Linked DNA regions of Homo sapiens. The protein of the gene in region 1 purifies or fractionates together with the protein of each later gene. This does not show direct contact. Each region holds a gene or a part of one and is shown in the gene's direction. Other genes may lie near its edges.

The links.
Region 2: the proteins of MTCH1 (region 1) and TOMM70 purify together in Homo sapiens (affinity purification with mass spectrometry; one large-scale study listed by BioGRID and IntAct). This does not show direct contact.
Region 3: the proteins of MTCH1 (region 1) and USP30 purify together in Homo sapiens (affinity purification with mass spectrometry; one large-scale study listed by BioGRID and IntAct). This does not show direct contact.
Region 4: the proteins of MTCH1 (region 1) and MTARC2 purify together in Homo sapiens (affinity purification with mass spectrometry; one large-scale study listed by BioGRID and IntAct). This does not show direct contact.
Region 5: the proteins of MTCH1 (region 1) and ANGEL1 purify together in Homo sapiens (affinity purification with mass spectrometry; one large-scale study listed by BioGRID and IntAct). This does not show direct contact.
Region 6: the proteins of MTCH1 (region 1) and MIGA1 purify together in Homo sapiens (affinity purification with mass spectrometry; one large-scale study listed by BioGRID and IntAct). This does not show direct contact.
Region 7: the proteins of MTCH1 (region 1) and AGPAT5 purify together in Homo sapiens (affinity purification with mass spectrometry; one large-scale study listed by BioGRID and IntAct). This does not show direct contact.

What each region holds. Positions count from the first base shown.
Region 1 is NC_000006.12:36,969,197-36,972,696, reverse strand, and holds part of MTCH1 (mitochondrial carrier homolog 1), read left to right. Parts: coding exon 1-45; intron 46-2,002; coding exon 2,003-2,050; intron 2,051-2,223; coding exon 2,224-2,291; intron 2,292-2,582; coding exon 2,583-2,658; coding exon of another isoform or gene 2,659-2,844; exon of another isoform or gene 2,845-3,500.
Region 2 is NC_000003.12:100,363,090-100,366,589, reverse strand, and holds the end of TOMM70 (mitochondrial import receptor subunit TOM70), read left to right. Parts: intron 1-872; coding exon 873-1,026; 3' UTR 1,027-3,159; downstream 3,160-3,500. UniProt on the Homo sapiens protein: Acts as a receptor of the preprotein translocase complex of the outer mitochondrial membrane (TOM complex). Recognizes and mediates the translocation of mitochondrial preproteins from the cytosol into the mitochondria in a chaperone dependent manner.
Region 3 is NC_000012.12:109,059,076-109,062,575, forward strand, and holds part of USP30 (ubiquitin carboxyl-terminal hydrolase 30), read left to right. Parts: intron 1-3,500. UniProt on the Homo sapiens protein: Deubiquitinating enzyme tethered to the mitochondrial outer membrane that acts as a key inhibitor of mitophagy by counteracting the action of parkin (PRKN): hydrolyzes ubiquitin attached by parkin on target proteins, such as RHOT1/MIRO1 and TOMM20, thereby blocking parkin's ability to drive mitophagy.
Region 4 is NC_000001.11:220,751,322-220,754,821, forward strand, and holds part of MTARC2 (mitochondrial amidoxime reducing component 2 isoform a precursor), read left to right. Parts: intron 1-8; exon of another isoform or gene 9-88; coding exon of another isoform or gene 89-90; intron 91-3,500. UniProt on the Homo sapiens protein: Catalyzes the reduction of N-oxygenated molecules, acting as a counterpart of cytochrome P450 and flavin-containing monooxygenases in metabolic cycles.
Region 5 is NC_000014.9:76,810,083-76,814,113, reverse strand, and holds the start of ANGEL1 (protein angel homolog 1), read left to right. Parts: upstream 1-1,231; 5' UTR 1,232-1,286; coding exon 1,287-1,350; intron 1,351-4,031.
Region 6 is NC_000001.11:77,859,649-77,863,148, forward strand, and holds part of MIGA1 (mitoguardin 1), read left to right. Parts: intron 1-391; coding exon 392-478; intron 479-1,575; coding exon 1,576-1,674; intron 1,675-3,500. UniProt on the Homo sapiens protein: Regulator of mitochondrial fusion: acts by forming homo- and heterodimers at the mitochondrial outer membrane and facilitating the formation of PLD6/MitoPLD dimers. May act by regulating phospholipid metabolism via PLD6/MitoPLD.
Region 7 is NC_000008.11:6,725,642-6,729,141, forward strand, and holds part of AGPAT5 (1-acyl-sn-glycerol-3-phosphate acyltransferase epsilon), read left to right. Parts: intron 1-3,500. UniProt on the Homo sapiens protein: Converts 1-acyl-sn-glycerol-3-phosphate (lysophosphatidic acid or LPA) into 1,2-diacyl-sn-glycerol-3-phosphate (phosphatidic acid or PA) by incorporating an acyl moiety at the sn-2 position of the glycerol backbone.

The sequences.
Region 1 (3,500 bases):
GACACCCCAGGGGGGCTGGGAAACGACCAGAATCCAGGTTCCCAGGTTGGTTGGAACAAGGACTTGTCCTTCTTTCCGTGTGCTGCTGATGCCCAGGGTCTGGGACAAACTCAAGGATTCTGGGATTCTCAGCATCAGGCCGGGAGGGTGAGAGAGGACCTCTCATTATCCCTGGAGTCATCTTTGTCTAAGGGGAGAACGGCCTCAAGAGGCGAGATTCCAGATTAGTACCCAGACCTGGGAGGAATTAATGGAATGCTTGTCCCTGGGCGCCTTAGAAACAGACCCCAGCTTATCTAAGGCTGCTCCGAGGCAGTGACCCAACTAGGGCTCAGGAAGTCAGAAGATAGACCAGCTAATAGTGATCACCTCTTGACCTTTGTGTCACGTCTTTTGCTTTTTAAAACCCTTTTGTGAACGTTATGGCCTTTGATCTGACGGCATCCTAGTTGTGAAGGGAACAGGGCAGGTATAATGTTCGTTTACCAATACAGAAATCGAGACCCAGAGATCACAAATTCTGGAGAGGCTCTGGGCTCTCCAGAGTCACTCAGCTGGAACTGACAGGGCTGGAATTAGATCCCTGGCCAGGCCAAGGGTGCATTCCTCTGAGTTTTTTCAGATCTGCTAGGAAGTGTACAGTCCGATACACCCTCCTATTTTGTTAGCTGTGGTCTACACAGCCTAGTATACATAGACCTTTCAGCAGGTCGGGTCAGGCATAGGAAGGCCTGGTCCTTCTACACAGCACTTGTTGAGGAAGGCCATCCAGGTACCTGAGGGGTTGACTGGTTCTGCCTGAACCAAGATAAGAGGTAGGGAGCAGCGATGGCTGGGAATTGCAGTGTCCAGACATTCTCACAGTGGGGATCACCTTCAAGAAGGATGGCATTCCTTCTTGAAGTGGCTTTCCCTCCCAGGAGGCTAGGAGGGCCTGGGGACGTGTCTGCCAGAATCACCTGGGTGGGAAGGGGGTCATGTTCAGCATGTGTGTGTGTGTGGTACATGTCTGTTCTGTGTGGTGAGGAGTGCCCCATCCCAGATGGGAGCCTCTGCTTGCAGGGAGACTGGCCACTTGACCTGGGCAGGTGAGTCTTCACTGGCCTTTCGATGTAAGCAAATTAAAGTGGCTCCATAGAGACCCACCCCATCTGCAATCACAGTGGTACATTCCTGCAGTTCTGCCCCTTCTCGGGGGGCCTTGTGGGTGGGTAAGCTGCTGCTGTCACATACAGAGCAAGGGTGGCCAGGAGTGCACCGCTAAGTGGTTTCTCATCTAGGTGGGCAGCTGTCTGACCAGAGGCTGCCGTGCTTACATCAGCAACAACAGCAGTCAACAGATTTGTCTAAAGTGTTTTTCGAGTGCTTTTCTGTATGTGGCTTAAAGGCCGAGGTGAGGCTGCCGGGCTGTCAAAGCCACTCAAGCAGACATCTGAGCAAATCTCTGACCAAGAACCCAGGCCATCGATCTGGTGGGATGGCCGCTCCACAGGAAGCTGAGGGTGGGGGAGTCACCTTTCCTCACTAGGAGCTGTTTGCTTCAGCAAAGCAGGATTTGAGGAGTTGGGGTCTGAAGGGGGAAAAGCTTGCTGAGGTGGAGGTGGCGATAAGCCTGGACTTGCCCTCACCTCACCCCACAGGCCAGGATTCGTCTTTGGGTTTCAGGGTGCATGTCTGTCTTAGCACTGACTGCGTGCCAAGCCCTGGATGTTGATCAGGCAGACACGGGCTCAGCCCTTGAGGCTCACAGTCCGGTGGGTTGCACAGGCAGCGGCAGCTGATCCCTCTTACCGGGTCTCCTTCTCGGGACTCCCTTCAGTCCACTTACCCCGTTTCTGCCCCCCAGGCCTTCTCTGGGCAGTGACTGTGAGGGCTGACAGGAAAGGCATGTGCAGCGTGCTTGTGAGGAGCTCAGCACAGAGGGTGGGGTGAGGGCATGTGTTGCTGAAGTCTGCATCCTGAGGTGCCTGTGGCAAACCACTCTTCCCTTCTGTCTCCTCAGTTCAGCCAGGCCCTGGCCATCCGGAGCTATACCAAGTTCGTGATGGGGGTAAGTTGTGCCAGCTGTCCTTCCTTCCCACTGCCTTGCGGACCCAAGCGGGGCCTAGGAGGCCAACCCTGGTAATGGCTGGAGGCAGGTCTTGGTACAGGGTGTTGGCGTGGTGTGTCCCTGCTCCCTGGGCCGGGGTGGGTCACTGGCACTCAGGCCTCTCTGGGTTTCAGATTGCAGTGAGCATGCTGACCTACCCCTTCCTGCTAGTTGGCGACCTCATGGCTGTGAACAACTGCGGGTAGGTGTGCGCCCCTCTACTTGCCACTCTACCTACCAAGGCTGTGGGGTGGGGGAGACCCACCGAGCCCTTCCAGCACTCTGCCCCCTCCCACCTGCTCTGTGTGTAGGCTTGGCCTGCCAGGCACCCTGGCTTCCGCTGGGATTTCCCAGCACCCCCTGGGGTAAACTGTGGTGTCAGGGGTCAGGGTGTGGATGGGTGGTAGCCTGAAGGCATTCCTTCTTGAAGTGGCTTTCCCGTGGCTGGCTGTCTTCCACTGTTCTCTGCATCTACACTCTCCTTCTCCGGCAGGCTGCAAGCTGGGCTCCCCCCTTACTCCCCAGTGTTCAAATCCTGGATTCACTGCTGGAAGTACCTGAGTGTGCAGGTGAGCAAGCACTGGACGGCGGAGGCCTTTCCTGTTCTTTGCTACATCCTTCAGCTGAAATGGTTTTGTGGATGCTTCATTGCATGCAAAGATAAGTGGTTTCATGGAATTCAATATTGTGAGGAGATACTTGGTATCTATAAGGCATTTAAGTTTTCATCTTACATAATTTCAGAAAGGATTTGAGGTGGCTAAGTGTGGGTTTATTTTAAGATTATACATCAGACAAGACCTTTTCTTCTTTGAGTCTTAAAGACTCTTAGGATAAGGATAAGAGAACTCTGGCCCAGGTGGCAGGTGGTAAAGCCCAAGAACTGCTTCTCCTTCAAGTAACATGGGCTGAAAATTCGAGGTCTGTAACCAGTTGAGCTGAGTTCCTGGGTTGTTAGGGCGGCTGGCATTGGAAACCGACTCCTCCCTCCTGCAGGACATTCCTGGGCCCAGGAGAGCCTGTGGGTGGGGCTGGGCCACGTGGGGAACTGGCAGCAGTACCAACCTTGGGTTCTCGTGTTCTGTACCGAAGCTACCTCTCCGTAGCTGGAGCTCTTGGGCCCAGCAGTCAGGGGTCCAGGCTTTGGCCGAGGGCAGAACCTTGCCTTTTCCTGGCCTTGATTTGCCTCGCAGTGAAATGGGGCAGTGGCCCGGAGGGAGCCAGAACTCTGAGTGGCCTCGAGGCTGAGAAGAGGACAGATGGGAGGGAAGCAGGGAGGAGAGCCGCAGTTCTTCCCAGTGGCCCTGGTCAGCGTGAGTGTGTCTCGTCCTCCCTATGAGCACTGAAAGAGTCCTAGACCACTTGGGCTCTGAAGCAAGAGGGGCAATGAGCCTCCTCTCTAGGGCTCTCC
Region 2 (3,500 bases), on another chromosome or scaffold:
AAAAGTTTTTTTTAAAAATAAGCCTATCACGTTGCCATATATTATAATGGGGGATTAAATATAGTCACCCTAGTGGTACCTCTTACTGGCATATAAAGTCTAACTGGCACATATGCCAATAAAATGTACCTTACTAACATGTATGCCAGTTAGACTCTGTATATGCAGGTATATATATATATAGTAGGGACTTAATATTCTTTGTAGGATTGCATATATATGTAGCTAATACTAGTTACTTAAAACAGTTGGTTCTTAGATAGCTGTGGATTTGACCAGAATCAGGCAGAGGCAATAAATCTGAGTATTTATTGAGTAGGTGTGAGGAACTCACATAGACTGCCTGAAGAGTAGAGATGCATGGGGTTGGGGATGTGCTGGTAAGAGATGAAACAGAAAGAGGTGGGCCCACATCAGTCTGTGAAGGTAAGGCCCTTGCATGTCATTAGTGTCCCGGTATTATGTCACTGCTTTCTAAAGGAGTCTCATGTTAACAGTAGAAACATGTAAAATTTAGGAACCAGACGGAATTGTGATTTTAAATAAGCCAATCAATTTCCCTAGTCTGACTGTTCTTATCAGTAAACACAGAATACAAGGGATATAATGTAAGCACATAGTATTTGTAATAGTAGTTGACATTCATTGAGTGCTTTCAATGTGGTAGGTACTCTTGTTTATTTTAAAAGAAGCATTTTACTAGAATCATAGTAGAAACTTAGTGGTCAGACTTCATGTAGCATCACTTACAACCTTCATTGAATATTGTGAAGAAACTTAGTGGTCAGACTTCATGTACCATCACTTACAACCTTCATTGAATATTGTGAAGTGCTTGTTGAATCTGAGACTTAAAAATTTTGTTCTTTTAGAGGAAACATGGAGAAAGCCATTGACATGTTCAACAAAGCTATTAACCTGGCCAAATCGGAAATGGAGATGGCCCATCTGTATTCACTTTGCGATGCCGCCCATGCCCAGACAGAAGTTGCAAAGAAATACGGATTAAAACCACCAACATTATAAAACAGGGGGAAAGCAGACTGACCCTCTTTTTAAAAGTTTACCCCCTCTTCAACTGAACCCTAAAGACACTGTCATGAACTGTGTTGAATGGTGGAAATCAGTATTTCTGTTTGTGGTGTTGTTATTTGTTACATCTGTTTCATGTCTAGGTGTTGTGGGTGTGGCTGTTGAAGGAAGTTTGCAGTCTTGCAGCTTTTATTCCCTGTGCAACAAAAGATTAGAACATGTTAAAGGGATTTTTAAATAAAGTTGCAAAGAGTACAAATGATAATTGGCCATGCAAATAAAAACTGATTTGTTGATTTTTTTTTTAAGGGGGGTTGGCAGTTGATTATGTTCTGGATGATTCCGTCTATATATGTGTGAATAATGTAAGTATTTTACAGCATGTTGATTTTTAAATTAACGTAGTAAATGCTGTAAAATAGATTTATATTCAGTTAACCGCTTTCAGTTGATTTTTTGAAAGAAACAAAGGTTAAATGGGGGATTAAAGTAAAATTGAGAGACCCTTTAAACCATTGTCAGCATGCACAATGCCTCTGATTCTGCAGTTTTAGAAACTTGGTGGCACTTATTAATCCTCTTGGCCCCTTTCCACTCTAATGGATAGTGTACATTCTTCTTAAAGTCCACAACAGCAGATTTTCTTGCAGTAAATTATGCAGATGCAAAATATTCTAATTGATATATGTGTTGGAAGACTGAGTATTGATGGGGGAGTGGACCAGACAAAGAGGTAAGATGAAACAGTAGTGTGTTTATAATTGTCTGTGACTATTTTCTATAATAATTAGTACTATTTAATGGTGAGCTTTTAAAAATGTAGGATAGAGGGTACAGTGGCACTGTATATACTATTTATAGTCTCAGCTACTAGGGAGGCTGAGGCAAGAGGCTTGAGACCAGGAGCTCGAGGCTGTAATGTGCCATGATGATTGCACCTGCGAATAGCCACTGCACTCCAGCCTGGGCAATATAGCAAGACCCCATCCTTTAAAAAATTTTAGAACTTTTTTAAAATCAAAGTGCAGATTGCTTGTATGTAAAACCCAAATAAAGGTAGAGTAAGTGTGATATATGGGAGTATTAAAATAGCTTAAAATTTCTCGTGAAGGACATGTGGCTAAAGGGTCAAAAAGGATGTAAGACTTGGAGCCAGAGCATAGTATTTCCTGAAATAACAAGTTTAGTGCTTTAACTATGGCTACATGTGCTTAAGGAATTTTGAGCCACTTATTTTTGAAGATGCTGAGGACATGTAGAGTGCTTTTTGTAGTGAGCTAACCTTGATCTCTAAGGACTAACTACCCAGGTCCAGGTCTTCACTAGGGGTACTGACAGTGTTTAAGCTTTACTCCACCTCCTTACTTAGAAATCACTTTACGATTTATTTCCATTTTCCACTTTTATAGACCATCCTTTTGCTTATATGCTAGATTTTTCTGGTGAGGGAAGGGTTGTGTTCTTCAGGGGTCTTTTGTTTTGAAATACTCAGGATGGGGAGAGGTTTATTTAAGAACGAATTATAATTATGGTTTACACTGTTGGGAGTAAAGGAGCATTTTTACACCCCTTAAGGGTGCTTAATTCTGTTGAAACCAAAAAGATTTGTCTACAAATGCTATCTTTTTTAGAAACTATTAGAAATGACTCCCTTTCAAAGTCAATCTTTGGAAAATATTGAGGAGGTCACTAATTAGTTGGTGCAGTTAATATAATTCAAGATGATTTGGATGATGGGAAGTTTGAGACCGCTGCATTTTGTTTTTAAATTATGCACCTTCTGATAACCCCCAAATACAGAAATGTTCTACATCTCTGAATGACCTCTGACTTTAAAAAAGTTTTTATTTGCATGGCTGTATTTACATTAACACTGACATTTTCTTCTACTCTTCTCCCTTCTTTCATCTTGGGGTTGGGTAGAGAAACACAAAGGAAACTGAAGCATGTGCCATTCTATACTGTCATTCCAAATTCTCATGGACTATTGCCTGTTGTGAAAATGTTTGAAACTGCACTGAAAGCTGCATCTGTCTGTATCTTTCTTTTGTAAATGACCTCACATGTAAATTCACCAAATAAATATTACATTCAAGCTCTTCTATCTATTCTTTAAATAGAAAGATAGGTAGTTTAGGCTGGGCATGGTGGCTCACACCTGTAATCCCAGCACTTTAGCAGGCCGAGGCGGGCAGATCACGAGGTCAGGAGATCGAGACCATCCTGGCTAACACGGTGAAATCCGTCTCTACTAAAAATACAAAAAAGTAGCCGGGTGTGGTGGTGGGCGCCTGTGGTCCCAGCTACTTGGGAGGCTGAGGCAGAAGAATCATTTGAACCCGGGAGGCGGAGGTTGCAGTGAACCTGCTGAGATCACGCCACTGCACTCCAGCCTGGGCAACAGAGCAAGACTCCGTCTCAAAAAAAAAAAAAAGGTAGTTTATTCATTTATTATGCTATTGCGTAAA
Region 3 (3,500 bases), on another chromosome or scaffold:
GAAAAATGGAGTCTAAAAGCAAACAAGTTTAGGAATGGCTGAATGGTAGCCCCCAACTTGGAGAGTCACAATATACACTGGCTTGGTAAAGGTTTTAAGAAATAACCTACCCAACTTTTTTTTGTTTTTGTTTTTTGAGACAGAGTCTCACCTTTTTTTCCCAGCCTGGAGTGCAGTGGTACAATCTCAGCTCACTGCAACCTTCACCTCTCAGGTTCAAGTGATTCTTGTGCCTCAGCCTCCTGAGTAGCTGGGATGACAGGTCTGTGCCACCACACCCAGCTAATTTTTTGCATTTTTAGTTGAGACAGGGTCTTACTATGTTGGCCAGGCTAGTCTCAAACTCCTGGCCTCAAGTGGTATGCCTGCCTCAGCCTCCCAAAGTGCTGGAATTACAGGCATGAGCCACTACGCCTGGCCCCAACTTCATTTTTATTTTTATTTTATTTTATTTTTGAGACAGAGTCTTGTTCTGTTGCCCAGGCTGGAGTGCAGTAGCACGATCTCAGCTCACTGCAACCTCCGCCTCCCGGGTTCAAGCGATTCTTCTGCTTCAGCCTCCCTAGTATCTGGGATTACAGCTGCATGCCACCACGCCCGGCTAATGTTTGTATTTTTAGTAGAGACAGTGTTCGCCATGTTAGCCAGACATGTCTCGAACTCCTGACCTCAACTGATCTGCCTGCCTCAGCTCAAAGTGCTGGGATTACAGGCGTGAGCCACTGCACCTAGCCCAACTTCATTTTTAAACCAACTTTTTGACTGTAGAACTGTTTTTTTTCTTCATAAAATCTGCTGACATTCCATGGGTATTATACAGAGTGCAATGTATGCACAAAGATCTCCAACACCTAATTATAATGGCAAAAGGAAAGAATGTAGATATCAAACAGAATCATTAAGCAATCACCTGTGGCCATACTACCCTGAACTTACCTGATCTCATCAGACCTCGGAAGCTAAGCCGGGTAGTGGTTGGCTAGCACTTAGATGGGAAAATGATAAAGTAATCGATGGCATACAGCCATTAAGAATCACTTTTATGAAATTTTTTTTTAATTTGGGTGAGGGCATAGGCTGTAATATTAAATTTAAAGAGCAGCGTACAAAATATAATTTGACTTCATCAAGGTAGGAACTTCCACAGATAAAGACTGGACTGAAAAATGCTGAAATGTTAGCAGTGGCCATTTTGGTATTGTGCAGTCATTGGTAATTTTAAAATCATTTTTGGAAAAAAACTATACTTCAACTTTTAACAATAAGCATATATTGCTCTCACTGTAAGGAGAAAATTGGATTTAAAAAACATTCAGCTAAATCGTGCTTCACTGAGGTATTTTCCCATGTGAGCTCTGCTTGACACAGAAATCTTTATGAAGCAAGTGTACTTTTCTGTGGAAGAGGTGACTTGGGAATAATTTCTTTTACTATCCTGTTTTTTTAGCCCATTCCTGGTTTAGAAAAAAAAAATGTGCAACTCGCTGCCAGCGTTCATCTAATTTTACGTAAACATGCTCTTTGAGGCCGAAGCAAATCTGACTGATTTTAAATGCGAAAATAGAAAAACTGTTCTTGGAGTTCTTTCCTTTTTTTTTGAGATGAGTCTCGTCTTGTCACTCAGGCTGGAATGCAGTGGCGGGATCTCGGCTCACTGCAACCTCTGCCTCCCAGGTTCAAGCAATTCTCCTGCCTCAGCCTCCCGAGTAGCTGGGATTACAGGCATGCCCCACCACGCCTGGCTAGTTTTTGTATTTTTAGTAGAGACAGGGTTTCACCAGGCTGCTCTCGAACTCCTGACCTCAAGTGGTGCACCTGCCTTGGCCTCCCAAAGTGTTGGGATTACAGGCGTGAGCTACCATGCTTGGCCTTTTTAATTTTTTTAAAAAAATAGAGATGGGGTCTTGCTATGTTGACCAGGCTGGTCTCAAATTCCTGACCTCAAGTGATCCTCCCATCTTGGTCTCCCAAAGTGCTGGGATTACAGAGGTGAGCCACTGCACCCAGCCATGTTCATGGGAGTTATTTCTAAATAGAACTTGTCTCTAATCCTAATGTAACAGAAATGTATATGATGTTACATTAGGATTAAAGACAGGAGTATTCTTGGGGCAAATGGGAAATGGGTTAAAAACACCACTCCAAAGATTTTGTGAAAGCTGAAATGTCCACATGAGTTATCCTAACCCTGACCTCAGCACTGCCCTTATCCTTCACATGGGACCCAGTGCTGGGAGCCAGAGCCATCCTTGGGCTGCTGTCCCAGGATGTCTGCTCATTTCTCTGCTTCTGCTTTCCAATGTCTCTAACTTTGGTTTAAAAAAAAAAAAAAAAATTTTTTTTTTTTTTTAGACAGGGTTCTTCTGTCTGTCGCCCAGGCTGGAGTGCAGTGGCACAACCTCAGCTCACTGCAGCATCTGCCTCCCAGGCCCAAAACAATCCTCCATTTCCATTTCCCAGGTAGCTGGGACTACAGGCACATGCCACCAGGCCTGGCTAATTTTTTGTATTTTGAGTAGAGACAGGGTTTTGACTTGTTGCCCAGGCTGGTCTCGAACTCCTAAGCTCAAGCAATCTGCCTGCCTTGGCCTCCCAGAGTGCTGGGATTGCGGACATGAGCCACCATGCCTGGCCTATAAATAATTTTTTAATTATACAAGTAATGCATGAATCAGTTCTCTTTGTAAAAGATTAAAGCATTACAGAGAAGGCCAAAGTCCCCTTTATCAATACTCAACCCTGCTCCCCTCCACCTTTCCCAAAAGGAAGCTATAGGTGAATCCTTCCAGACCCTTTTCTGTGCATTTGAATACATTTCTATGCATCCATAGAAATTATATATTGTAGGTTTTTTTGTTTTCTGTTTTGTTTTTGTTTTGTTTTTTGGAGACAGGGTCTCACCCAAGCTGAAGTGCAGTGGTGCAGTCTCGGCTCACTGCACCTCAGCCTCCTGTGCTCAAGCTATCCTCCCACCCCAGCTTCCCAAGTAGCTGGGACTACAGGTGCGTGCTGCCACACCTGGCTAATTTTTGTATTTTTAGTAGAGATGGGGTTTCACACTGTTGCCTAGGCTGGTCTTGAACTCCTGGGCTCAGGTGATCCACCCGCCTCAGCCTCCCGTAGTGCTGGGATTACAGGCATGAACCACCACACCTGGCCTGTATATTGTTTTGTTCTGTTGGTGATTTACATGGCCAAATATAATACATTAGAGAAGCGTCCATTTTAGTACATGTAGCTCTACCTCCTTCACTTTTTTTTTTTTTTTTTTTTTTTTGAGACGGAGTCTCGCTCTGTCGCCCAGGCTGGAGTGCGGTGGCATGATCTCGGCTCACTGCAAGCTCCACCTCCTGGGTTCAAGCTAGTCTCCTGCCTCAGCCCCCCGAGTAGCTGGGATTATAGGCGCCATGCCTGGCTAATATTTTTGTATTTTTAGTAGAGACGGGGTTTCACCGTGTTAGCCAGGATGGTCTCAATCTCCTGACCTCGTGATCCGCCCG
Region 4 (3,500 bases), on another chromosome or scaffold:
ATGCTGGCATTCGGTGCCTGGTGCAGTTGCTGGGAGGGCGTGCTTGTCCTCCCTGACCTTGGAAATCTCTGCTCTCCTTAGCAGCCATATGTGAGTTGATCAGTTTTATCTCTCTAAACCCTTACTGAAGCCAGTCCTTTATTTCTTCTGCACAAATGATGAACTGTTGGAGAAAGGAATCCCTTAAGTTTATTATTGTCCAGGGTGTTATTCCCTGCCCAATTCCTGCTGTTTTTCTCCTCCCACACTCAGTAGTAGAGTTCCTGCTTTCCCTCACTTTTCAGTCCTTCCTGCTCCCCAGGCCAGTTTGTAATTGAGAAATGATATTTTTTTCTGTTGTTTTGGGCTCCACTTACCCGTTGCTGTTGGTTGTTCGGGGCTCTATAGCTCTTTTGGGGAATCGGGGCTCCAGGCTTCTACACTGATCCCTCTACCACATACTCATGTTTTACCTGTGAATTCAAGGTGCTGGCTTTTAGTGTTGCAGACTAGGTTGGGGTAACTTGGTTATGATGAAATCTATGCTCCAGACTTATCTCTTCTTTCAGATCTGGCAGAATAGAACTAGTTATTCATTCACTGGGCATCATTTTGTGCACAAGAGGTGAAAAATAATATTGCCCAGGTTGACAGGGAAATGAGATGGTTGGGGTATGTTACAAATGGTAACCTTTTAACCTGTGATTGCTGTATTTGTCCTGTTCCAAAATTGGACTCCCTGTAAGTTGCCAGTTTTTCAGTGACAGTGATGAGTGGGAAACCTCTAGTGACAACTTCCCACTGTTAACCTCAGCAGTTAACACCTGTATTATTATACAACAGTCTGGAGCCACAGGCCAGGCTGTGAGCCACGGTGAAGGGCGACATTAATAAGGGATGAATGGGAGATGAGAAGATTCAGCCCATGGAGAAATAATGTCAGAAATAATGTGCAAACAGGTTTGCCACTCCTGTTTGGACATGGCTCTGGTTGTGTGCAGATCTCAAAGGGAGTCTTGTCTGGGGAAGGGGCATGTTGGAAGTTAAGGGTGAAGGCTTTAGTGAGGCTAACCAAAGAAATGTGCACCAAGGGACAAGGCTGGAAATAGGGAATAGGGCCCAGCCCTGTGAGGCATCTAAGTCAGTGGATGCCTGCCTATTTCACTGTAGCCCCATTCTCTGGGCAGACATCCTCAGATTTACAGAACCCAGCCCCAGGATGAGTGAGCCAGAGAACTGTGGGATCTAAAGACATCTTTGACCAGGCAGGATGGCTCACATCTGTAATCTCAGCACTTTGGGAGGCCAAGGAGGGAGGATTAATTGAGCCAGGAGTTCCAGACCAGCCAGGAGGTCCAGACCACAGTGGGACCCCATCTCTACAAAAAATAAAAAGATCAGTTGGGCGTGGTGGTGTGTGCCTGTAGTCCCAGCTACTCAGGAGACTGAGGCAGGAGGATCGCTTGAGCCCAGCAGTTCAAGGCTGCCATGAGCTAAGATCACGCCGCTGTACTCCAGAGCCTGGGTGATAGAGTGAGACCCTGTCTCCCTCTCTCTTGATATTAATTAAGTATAAATATATATAAATGAATAAATAATACACATATGCATATATACACTTAGGAAATGGTGGGCTGGGCACGGTGGCTCACGCCTGTAATCCCAACACTTTGGGAGGCCGAGGTGGGCAGATCATGAGATCAGGAGATCGAGACCATCCTGGCTAACACGGTGAAACCCTGTCTCTACTAAAAAAAAAAAAAAAAAAATACAAAAAATTAGCCGGGCATGGTGGCGGGTGCCTGTAGTCCCAGCTACATGGGAGGCTGAGGCAGGAGAATGGTGTGAACCCAGGAGGTGGAGCTTGCAGTTAGCCGAGATCGTGCCACTGCACTCCAGCCTGGGTGACAGAGTGAGACTCCGTCTCAGAAAAAAAGAAAAAAAAAAGAAAGAAAGAAAAAGGTGGTCTCCTCAGTGGGGTGGGGACTTGCTGCTACCCAGTGTCACCAGCTTTTTGGAAGCAGGTAGTCAAGACAGTTACTGGAATGCCTTTACACTGCCACACCATCATAATGCCAGTTAGCAGAGCACAGGCTGCCAGCCATTGTCTTCTGGTGTGGTTGCGGGGAAGGGACAGTTTAGCCAGCACCTGGAAAGGACTTTACGGATAAGGAGGTTGCAGATGTAAGACTATCTGTCAGGGTCAGGACAGGGCAGAGACGGAGCTCCCTGTGCTGGGATATTGGATGTCCTCCTGAGGTCTCCTCAGCCTTTCCCTGATGGCTCTGGTCATATTTTGGAATGTCTCCCTGGGAGGAGCCGCCCCTGCTTCTGGAAGGGGCTGTGCTTTTTATCCTCCTCACATTTGGAAAGCCTCTGGCTTTCAGACAATTTTTACTTATCAGTGCCTGCATTTTCCTCACCCGCTAGTCTGCAGATTCTATCTTCTTTCTAAAATAGTGATATTGGGCTAGGCACAGTGGCTCATGCCTATAATCCCAGTACTTTGGGAGGCTGAGGCGGCAGGTCACTTGAGGCCATGAGTTCAAGACCAGCCCAGCCAACATAGCGAAACCCCATCTCTACTAAAAGTACAAAAATTAGCTGGGCGTGGTGGTACACACCTGTAATCCCAGCTACCCGGGAGGCTAAGGCAAGAGAATCACTTGAACCAAGGAGGTGGAGGTTGCAGTGAGCTAGACTGTACCACTGCACTCCAGCCTGGCTGACAGAGTGAGACTCTGTCTCAAACGAAATGAAACAAAACAACTAAACGAAACAAAACAAAATGAAACTAAACTGTGATATTGAAATTTATTTTCCCTAGGAGTGGAAGATTTTTTTCTTTTTGGCAACACAGTCTTTTGTGTGGTACAGCCCCAACCTATATGCTAGGCTGTAGGTAAAAGCCTAACCAACTGGGCCTGGCCAGCTTCCCCTCACTCTTCAGCTCATCCCATAGAAATACAAAGTAAGAAAACCAAGTCCAGTACAGTGGGCTCTCTAGGAAATAAGTGGGATTCTTATCTAACATGTGACTTCTGTGTGTCTTTGTTCTCTATGTCAGAATGTGTGCATGAAGAGGAAAGGCTGTTTGGGAGGTTTCCTGATGTAGGACCCCCGCATGCCGCGGCAAGTTAAACAGAGCAGAGGCTGGCCTGGTTCCGCTTGGAGGCAGCAACATTGCAAGACCTTTGTCTCAGACTCAAACTCACTTGGCCAACCTCATCTTGTTCTACAACAAAAGGACCTGAAAGCTATTTTACTTCTCCCAGGGCCACAGAGACATATTTAACAGACCTGCAGAAGCTTCTAACCAAAGCAGAACCCCCAGACAAGCAGCAGGGTTGACTAAGCAGTGAGGGAGAGTCTCTGAGCCAGGCTCATGTTCTTGTTTTTGAAACTGGAGATTGCCATACATCAGCCAGACACTCTCCCAGAACTGTTTCCGCCAAATAAGCTCTTTCTGGGGTCACCAACTTTTAGACCCAAATCATTTGGCCAGACCTGGATAATTGTCT
Region 5 (4,031 bases), on another chromosome or scaffold:
GCTAGCGAATGCAGATTCGGCCGCTTGCAAAACCAACGAGCAAGGTCGTGGTATGGTAGAAGGAGACTGACTTTATTATAAACCAAAGCTAGCAGTGGGGAAAAACGATCCAGGCTTTTGCTTTAATGGAGCTGCTTCACATTTCCAAGCAAAATGCGAGGCTTTAAGAAGTTTTGGCATGGAGGGTATGCAAGGGGTGAGGCAGTGCAGGTCTTCATGACGAGTTCTGATGACTTGTCTTGAGTTACTGCCCATCTGGTGAATGGGCTGGCATCATCTCGGGCTGGGCTGAGTTATAAATTAACTGTAGCCTTGAATCAATCTCCTGGTGGAGATTTCCACAGATGCCTATATTGTTTCAAGATTTAGTCTCTGGAACTTTTAAGCGAACATACAATTAGATATGCTAACAGTGTGTATGGGGGGTGCTGGGGTGTCGGGGGGTGCCTAGTGGTTAACTGAACAAAAATAAAGAAATAGAAGTATATAACAAGAATATAACTTCCAAGCTGGGTACTTGGTTACAATAGGTGCTTGGATTGTATTAGAGATACCTCAAAGTGAGCAAACAACCAGCCAGAACTGGTCCCTGGCCTTGTGGAAGTTTCTCTCTTCTGTCTCTCTCCTCTCTCCCTTCTCTCTCTCCTCTCTTTGTCCTCTCTCCTTTCTTTCTTGACTTCCTTACCAATGGGAAACCCTGTTTTTCTAGATTAGGGAAAAGAAGGCCCGTTTAGAAAGTAGGGAAGGAGACAAAGTCTTACTTCCTGAAGCAAGGTAGGACTCAATTTGTGACCTAGAATCTGAGACAGGGAAGTAGAGGCAGGAAAACGGGGGAAATGGGGGAATAACTCGCTTCCTTTCTGGGTCGAGAAGGGCTAGAAGTCAAGGTTCAGTGGAGCCTTAGAGAAAGTCCAGCTCTTCATTTTACAGGTGAGGAAACTGAGGGGCGGAGAGGCTATAGTGTGGTAACAAGGTGGACACCTAGTCAGCTGCAGAAGTGGGAATAAACTGTGGCCTTTGAATAACACTATGGGGCCTCCAGTGAGGCGCTCAATTTTAATTCGGGACGCCTGGGTGGCAGCCGGGTGCTAGGGGTGGCTAGTTGCCATGGGAACCGGCTCCTCCCACTTCCTGCGTGCGCACCCGTAGACCTGCGCTCCCAATAAAGTTGTTGTTGAAGCGCGGCGGCGGCACCACGTGGGCCGGACCGGGCCGGGGGCGGGGCCGAGCTGAGGGAGGACCTGCTGGCTGCAGTGAGGAGCGGAGGCGGGCGCGGGCGGCCGGCCATGATCGCGTCGTGCTTGTGTTACCTGCTGCTGCCGGCCACGCGCCTCTTCCGCGCCCTCTCAGGTACCGGCCAGGCGTACCGACAGACAGGAGCCCGGCCAGGGCTCGCCTCTGCGGGGCTCCGCGGGCCTGGGGCGGCGTGCGGTTGGCCGGGCCTCACGACTACCGTGCCCCGGGCAGTGCCGAGGTGTAGGGAGGCGGTCCTGAGCCCCTGCCCCGCGGGCCCCTCCTGACCCCACGAGGCCTGGACCTGGCCGACGTCCCTCGTGGGCGGCCCCTCCTCCCGCCTGTTGTCAGATGGCGTCCGGCCGCGGTTAAGGTGGAGAGGAGCTGTGGACGGGCAGGGCCCTTTCCTGGCCCTGGGGGTGCAGAGAAATTGTGGGGTCGGCCAAGTCAGCACCCCGGCGGGTCGGGAAGGGGTAGTAGCTCGGACCTAGGCGAGTGCCCAAATTCTCAGCGGGCGAGGCGGGTCGGCTCTGGGAGGTTTATGGCCGAAGTACTGGACGCACCGATCTTCCCCAGGTTAACTTCACACTCGCCTTTCACTGCCACCTGGCAGCTCTCGCTCACCGGTGTCTTTGGTTGAAAAACGGACGTTCAATCAGAGACACATTTAGATCTCAGCTTTGGAGCATTCCTGCCCCCACTCCCGGCGGTTTAGAGGGAGATGTGCTGGGGTGGGGGCAATGCCCAGTCGATACCTCAAAGAGGGGGTGTTTATTTCGTTATTGTTTCATAATTTGTCTGCATTCTCTATTTCTGGGCTTTGAAATTACGGAGGGTTTTATGCGACCATCAGTTTCTGAGATCCCATGGAACTCGCAGACTTTTTGCCTTTAATTTATGGGACAGGACCAAGAAGTACTTAGGAATGAGGGCTCCAATTGTATATTCTGTGGTTTTCCTTTGTGGAACTTTACACAATTGGTACGCAATGTGTGTGTCATTGATAATATATATTTCATATAGAAATATTTTAAATTTTACTGTGTATCTGCCATTAGAATGCAAACTTCAGGAGCGCAGGGCCACGTCCATTTTGTTCGCTGTATCTCTGGTGTTAACACATTGCTTGGTATACAGTAGGCACTCAGTGAATTCAGGAATGTCTTGTGTGTCCATACTTCTGAGGAATGTGGGAAACTCCACAGAAGTAATTGTTTCCAGAGAACTAAACATATTCTTTTAACTATGTTGCTGTTTTTCCTGGAGCTCTTCTAATGCCTTAGTGATACAGTATACTAGTCCAGAGGTTTCCAGACCAGTAGAGTTCTAGGGATCTCAGAGGAGGGCCCCCCCCGCCCCCCCACCTACACATTACAGTAGTCCCACTTATATTTACTTGGCATATTTGGTTTCCAGATAAGATTTTTAAAAAACAAAAGCATTCTGCTGCTGAAAATCCACCACCACCACCACCAAAAGACATCTACCAAAATTGAAAGCTAGTAACTTCGTGCATATGAACCAAAGAACCTCTGCCATCTGGTATACACAGAGGATATTTCAAGGGGCAGATAATCAGGAAGTCCTTGAGGCTAAAGCTCAACGACCCAGCCCATACATAGGTTTAGAGCAGGGTTTCTCAATCTCAGCACTGTTGACGTTTTGGACCGGATCATTTGGTGTGGGTCTGTCCTGTGAATTGTTGGAAGTTCAGCAGCGTCTCTGTCCTCTAACCACTAGATGCCAGTAGCAATGCTGCAGTTGTGACAACAACAGTGTCTCTGAACGTTGCTAAATGTCTTCCGAGGGCAAAATCACCGTGGTTAAAACCATTGTTTAGAAGGACATAAATATACATAGACCCCAAACAAGATATTTGAACCGTCTTTCAATATTTGAGCCACTTTTAAGGTTTCTTCCCTTTAAAAAAAAATTGCCAATAAAATGAGTCTAGTGATTGAGGGCCAGCATCGTGCATGTTACTCGTCCTGTGCTGTAAATAAATGGTTGAGTGTGTGAGTGTAGGAGTTGTTTGCTCTCACCAAAATACTGTGCTCAGAGTTTGGGGGCTCTAATTTTAGAGTTTTTCCCACTTTCTTTCTTGCCTGTTGGCTGTCATTGGTGGCTGCAGTATCAGAGAGATGTCAGCTGTCTCTTACTGTCGATTGTTGGCACCTTGTAATTTATAGCCTCTGATGTGTTGTGGAATGGGAAAGCAGATAATGAAGTTTGTGAAGATTTTATTACAATAAGTAGCTTTGAGAAAAGGCTTAAGGGCCCTTGCTAAGATGTAAATTGTATAGATTTTTGAGACTGTCTACTTTAGGACTTTTTCTTTTGGAATACATTAATAGATTAGGGAATTTATACAGCTAGAAAAGCTCAGAGATTATCTAGTTCAAACTTGTCTCTATTTTTTTAAATTTAAAATTTATTTTTTTCTTTTCTTTTCTTTTTTTTTTTGAGATGAGGTCTCACTTTGTCTCCCAGGCGGGAGTGCAGAAGGGCAGTCATAGCTCACTGCAGCGTCAACCTGGGCTCAAGCAATCCTCTCATTTCAGCCTCCCAAGTAGCTAGGACCATGGGCATGTGCCACCGTACTTGGCTAATTTTTAATTTTTTGTAGAGATGAAGTTTCGTTATGTTGCCCAGGCTGGTCTCTAACTCCTGGCCTCAAGTGATCCTGCTGCCTCTGTCTCTGCCTCCCAAAGTGCTGGGAGCCACCACGCCTGGCCTCTTGTCCCCATTTTACAGTCAAGAGTAACTTCATCTGACTAGGGGCATTGTTCAAGGTCAGT
Region 6 (3,500 bases), on another chromosome or scaffold:
GGCTGCTTAAAATAAAAACACTCTTTCTTATTAATTAGTGTGTATTTGAGATTTAATTTCAGTCAATTATAAAATTGATTTTCTAAAAAGAAAATAACAAGAATATATTTGTTTTCTTATGTTTTGGGGCTATAGGAAATTTATTTGAGACTGTAATATGATTTTGAACAGAATTTAAATTCAAATTTAACTCCCTTTAATCTTTTTTTGACTATAGGTTTCAAGAGTTCTTTTTATTTTAGTAAATTAGGACTTTCTCTGTGAGCTGCCTGTTGAAATAGCACCACATGCAATGCATTAACTGTTTTAGGATTATTTGTGCTATTAAGTTGAATGTCCATTCACATTCATTATAGGTCTCTTTTTTCTTTGGGGATGAATATTTTTTCAGGTAATTCTTTCAGAATCAGCTAACAGGATATTCCTCGCTGAGAGCGGAAGGAAAATTTTATCAGCTTTAATTGTGAAAGCACGAAAGGTAAACTTGTTCTGTTGGCAAGATTTTTACCATTTACAAAAGTTGTTTTTACCCTTTGAACTGAAGATTAAGACATTAAATTTTTGATAGAAGAAAAATTTTTGTGGATAGTTGAAAAGGGCATTAAGTTATGCTCGGGTTGAACTATGTATAAAGTCCACACTATTTCAACCAAGTTGTTTCTCATAAATTATTTCCAGTTTGCCATAAACTCTGTAAATGTCATGGTGAGAATTATCATTAGATCTGCTGCTATAACCATCACTGTTATTATTACTAATGCCTCCTCTTTTATTACCTCAATCCTGTTCAGGAAGAGGGTTACAGGAAATAGCGTAGGTCTCAGAAATCTGGAATACAAATTGAACTGCCTCATCTTCATGTAGTTGAATGAGGCAGAAGCAATGACAAGAACTTCATTCAGACTGTAAGGAACCACCTTACTTTATGCAAGGTTTGTCCAGATGATGATAAAACAAAACAAGCCTTCCTTGAGCCATTTGCACACCTAGTTTTCAGACTCAATCCCTTTGAACTTTAATTCTTTCATTTATATAATAGAATTGTATTTATATTACCTCATTTCAGAGGGTTTTTAGGATGATTAAATAAATGATAAATGGGAAGCAACTTAAAGAATAAAGTGTTAAGTAGTGTAAAGCTAAGTATATGTAAGGTGATACTATTAATACATGCAATTCCCAATGTAAGTCTTGTGTTGCTTTCTTGGCCTTCTCATGACAGATAAACTCAGTGATTTGAACTAGGGTTCCTCCAAAAGAAGCAGAACTGCAACAAAAGCCTCACATAATGTCTGCTATAACCAAATTTTCATTTTAATTACTGACCAAAATAGGCATACATATTTGAGTAATAAATAGTTTGCTTGTGACATTTTACTGACATTCTTTATCTTGGCTTCTGCAAAATGTTGCAATAGCAAAGTAGTAAACCAGATAAATTTGGCATACCTTTAAAATGTATTTTAGTTCAGTTACCTAGTAGAATTAAGATCTACCAGACTTATTTGAAGAGTAACTTTCTTTGTAGCTTGTTATAAAGTTGAGTTTAGGGTTAAAATGTGTTTTCTTCTTCAGAATCCAAAGAAGTTTGAAGATGTTTTTGATGAAATGATCTATTTTTTAGAGCAGACCGATCACTGGGGTAGTACTGAAATGGAACTTGCTGCTAGAGGGGTAAATTCAAATTTTTTGTGATATTTATTTTTCTTAGTTATTTGCATGTAATTTTATATGAGTTGAGACTACTGTTTCATTGTCCTTGTTAAATAAAGCCAATTGTATGGTTGTGGGACATCTTTTTTTCTGACGAAGTCATAAACCACACTCCTTGTACGTTGGGGCAGTAGTTGTAAATTGTTTTCTAAGAAGCCTTTTTTGCTGTTGTTGGCTCCTTGCTTCCTTCCCTCCTGTCCTCCTTCCCTTGTTCCCTCTCTTCCTTCTCTCCAAAAGTCATTGGCAGGCCCCTAGCAGGACAGGAATGGTGGCCCATGCAAGGACAGCTTTGGGTAGTACAACAGCAGCAGCTCAGTAGGGCTGGGGAATTGGCTGTATACACAAGACTGAACAAATAAGTATACTGAGAAAAATCAGAGCCAGCTTTTCCCTGTGAGAGAAGGGAGGTATAAAATGCTGGGATTGGAATTGGAGCTGTCAGTGTGAGTTCACAGTTTATAATATATATGTAGATACAGATATAGAAATAAATATCGGTCCAGGCATGGTGGCTCACGCCTGTAATCCCAGCACTTTGGGAGGCTGAGGCGGGCGGATCACCTGAGGTCAGGAGTTTGAGACCAACCTAGCCAACATGGAAAAACCTTGTCTCTACTGAAAATACAAAAATTAGCTGGGTATAGTGGCTCACGCCTGTAATCCCAACTACTCGGGAGGCCAAGGAACGAGAATTGCTTGAACCTGGGAGGTGGAGGCGGCAGTGAGCCAAGATCGTGCCACTGTACTCCAGCCTGGGTGACAGAACGAGACTCTGTCTCAAAAAATATATAGATATAGATATTGGTCAGGCATGGTGGCTCACGCCTGTAATCCCAGCACTTTGGGAGGCTGAGGCGGGCGGATCACCTGAGGTCAGGAGTTCGAGACCAACCTAGCCAACATGGCAAAACCTCATCTCTACTGAAAATACAAAAATTAGCCAGGTGTAGTGGCTCACGCCTGTAATCCCAACTACTCGGGAGGCCAAGGAATGAGAATTGCTTGAACCTGGGAGGTGGAGGTGGCAGAGAGTCAAGATCGCGCCACTGTACTCCAGCCTGGGTGACAGAACAAGACTCTGGCTCAAAAAATATATAGATATAGATATCGGTCCGGCATGGTGGCTCACGCCTGTAATCCCAGCACTTTGGGAGGCTGAGACGGGCAGATCGTGAGGTCAGGAGTTTAAGACCAGCCTGACCAACATGGTGAAACCTGTCTCTACTAAAAATACAAAAATTAGCCAGGCATGGAGCGCATGCCTGTAATCCCAGCCTGGGTGGCAGAGCGAGACTCCGTCACACACACACACAAAAGGAATGAAATCCCAGCACTTTGGGAGGCCGAGGCGGGCAGATCACTTGAGGCCAGGAGTTTGAGATCAGCCAGGCCAACATGGTGAAGCCCTGTCTCCACTAAAAATACAAAAATTAGCCAGGCATGGTGGTGCATGCCTGTAATCCCAGCTACTCAGGAGGGTGAGGCAAGAGAATCACTTGAACCCAGGAGGTGGAGGCTGCAGTAAGCCGAGATCGTGCCAGTGCACTCCAGCCTGGGTGACAGAGCAAGACTCTGTCTCAGAAGCAAAAAAAAAAAAAAAGAGTGAGTTTACAAGCAGCTGAAAGGCCTTCTAGGCAGAGAAAACAGTGGATACAACAAATACATGAAGACTTAATTTTTCCTTTTCTAGTGTTCCCTTATTCAGGAAATGAAATCAGTATCCATTTACTTCTGCAGGCCAGCAACCTGAGACTCATCCTTCACCTCTCCCTGATGCTCACCCATTT
Region 7 (3,500 bases), on another chromosome or scaffold:
TTAATTCTCCAAATAATTCAGCCCTCCAAAAAAATCCCACTTCTTATGTTTTCAAACCTGTAGCTACTTTTGATGCGTACTTCCTAAATTGCATTTTTATTACTTTAAAAAATATAATACCTAGAAGCTCAAAGCTGGAAACAGCCTGATCAATATAGTACTCTTAAGCTAAAAACAACCTGATCAATATAGTACTCTTAGGGAAATCACTTATGCCTGTGGCTTTTTTTAAATTTTCTTCCTGTCAGCTGTCTCTTCATGATTTTGTGGTTTTTATTACTGCTTATACCATAGATGAGGTATAGAAAGTAAAAGAAGTTAAAATGCATTTTTCTCAATTTAGTGAATTAATGATTACATTCAGATTTATAGGACAAGGGTTGAAGCTACAAGGGGTTGATAGGAATCTTGATGTATCTGAGTATTTTCCCCAACTTTATTACATGACTGGTTCAGACTATTTTATCTAATTACATTTCACTCTTGGCAAAAATAGCAAAACAGTCAACCAATGGTCAATGCTGCTGAGAACTCTGGCCTGTGCAGACATATTGGCTGTTTTACTTCTAATACCATTCTGCTTTTCCTGTCCTGCTGCTGATGGATGTTTCTTCCAGGTTTTAAATATCAAACAAAAGGGATCTGTGGGCCCAGTACAGGGAATGGCTCTTGATAGATTTGATTTTCCTGCATTTCCTTTATTTTGATCCAGTGTTAATTTCATGTAGAGTTGTCTGTTTAACAGGATTCTCTTAAAATTCCTTCTTCAGTTTACCTGCCAGCTTTTCTTTGTCCAGGTTTCAGTATGAACTCCACTCGATTAATAGAGCTCTCTAGTAGTGACTTGTGGAGTGGGTTCTCTGAACATTTCTGGAAGTGTTGCTGATAGTGATAATATTGATCACTAGTACTGTTAATTTGTGTGCTTACTACATGTTGGCTTTTATATGTATTCCTTCAGATTAAGGACTTCTAGAAAACATCCATGAAAAAACAGATTAAAAAAAACAATTCTGCATGTATTTGGGACTAGAAGGTACTATGGGAAGGATAATCTTCATACTCAGACCATACTGACCTGAATTTCATTTATCAGTTTAGAGAACCACTTCCCCTTCCCTTCACCCTACCTCCGAGTGCCTGTGACTTTGTATCACCGCTCTGGCACCACATCCTCATCCCAGCAGGATTTGGGAAGGCTGCTTTTTGAAAGCCTTTTAAAATTCTGTAAGTTGAGAAAATACTAGGGGAATGATTTTAAATTTCTTTAGAATTACAGGCTTTAGTCAGTATATGACAGAGCCTTTTCCTAGAAAAATGTGCATATAAAAATTTGCATGTAGTTTTAGGGTTTCAGAGACCCCTAAAGCCTATCCATAGACGTGGTTCATTGTCTGATTGTGTTTAGGTACCCTTCTAAAACCCTTTTGAGATGTTAGGAATCACAACAGAGTATCTCTGAAAATGTAATTAGCGGAAAGAATATTTCAAAGACTGTTGTTCTGCTTAGACTTTCTAGTTTGTCTTCTGCCAGGCTTGCCGGAATAAATGAGTTTCCTGGCCTGATACTCAAAAGAATTGACATTTAAATTAGTCTCTCTCTTCCCTTGTTTTCGCTTGACACATCCTTGTCTCTACATTCTGTCTCTGTCTCTGTTAGCTTATTTCTCTCTCGAGTCAGCAGGATATAGTGGCTGTTATTTCTTCCCCTTATCCTTCAACTATCTACTTTTGACAACACTTTGCCTTTTTTTTTTTGAGATGGAGTTTCACTCTTGTTGCCCAGGCTGGGTGTAATGGTGCAATCTCAGCTCACTGCAACCTTTGCCTCCCGGGTTCAAGCCATTTTCCTGCCTCAGCCTCCCGAGTAGCTGGGATTACAGACATGCACCACCACGCCTGGCTAATTTTGTATTTTCAGTAGAGATGGGGTTTCACCATGTTGGTCAGGCTGGTCTTGAACTCCTGACCTCAGGTGATCTGCCTGCCTCGGCCTCCCAAAGTGCAGGGATTACAGGCGTGAGCCACTGTGCCCTGCCTGCTATTTGCCTTTTTAATCTCATGAAATGTTCTCTTTTCTTGGCTGAAGTGTCACTTTTCTTGTTGAACAGCATGCGTGGTGAGTAGAATGTTATAAAAAGGGATGGACTTTGGAGTTAGAGAGACCCAGGTTCCTGTTCGGCATTGCAGAAATGCTGTTCTGCAATAGGCTGTGTGTCAGTGGGCAAATTACTTATCTCTCAGAGCCTTATTGGTAAGGTGTGAGTGATAGCTCCTTTCAGGCACCTTACAGAGGCTGTCTCCTAATCCTGGTAGCGTACCTGGCTCATAGATGGCATTTAAAAGTGGTTGTGATGACAGTCATAGCTCACCATTAGCATAGCGCTGGATCCATGGCAGGGAAGCGCTGCACATGCAGTATCTCTTGGACTACACAGGGCCCTCATGAATTAGGAACTGCTGTTTCATGAGGATAGGGATGAGGAAATTAGACTTGCTGCCCCTCACTGCCTTCCACTCCTCTCCTCCAAGTTAATGGGAACTATGACTCTGCTTTGGCTTGATTGCCATGGAAGATTCTCACACAGCCAAATTTATTGCTATCTTAGTTAAATTATGCCAGAACACAAAATATGAAGTTATTGTCAAAGTAATATAATCTCAGCTGTAACTGAGATAGTCAGAAACTGTCTGTAATCTGATGTCCTATCTGAAAGGTAGCTGAGAATAAACAAGAAATAAAGAGAATTCAGTAGCAAATATTGGTGACACAAAGCTTTTATATTTTGACTAGTTAAGCTAGTTCTTAAATGTTTCCACTAAAATATTCAAGTTTAAGGGCATAGCCCAGGGCAGCTTATTATGAACATGATGTATTTTGGAAATCTTACACTTTCTCTTAAAAGTTCTTGGGAGGGGCATGTGAGGCCATAATATAACCATAAAACCATTTGTTTTAAAATAAAACCCATTTTTAAAATTCTTCCAAATAAAAAAATTATTGCAGGAAAAAATGCTAAACCTGGTTTTTAACTTTGTACGCCAACTATATTTCCAAGATGTGCTGTAGCCTGGTAACCATACAGAACCATACAGAATTAGTTCTCAGAATTTATTGTCTGCTTACTTTTGCATTTGGTACAGGTATAACAGGGTCGATTATATGGTTTCTAAGACATGACTAGAAAGAAATATGTTTATCAGTTATTATTTCTTCCATCTAAATTAGAAGGGGCTAGGGAGAGGGCTTCAACAGGAATTTATATACTTTAGAGAAAAGTGATCATTGATAGCCCAATAGTATAGATATCTCAACCCAATAACACAGGTTGTGTCTGTCTCTGGGATCATACACTGTAGGGGAGAATCTTTGCAAGCAACATTCTACTTATAGGGAGCCATAACAAAAGTTTCATATGTATAATAATTATAAGTCTTAAGTCATCAAGAAAAAGTTAACTTGTGAATGATAATCCCTGATTAAAAAGAGAGATGTATAA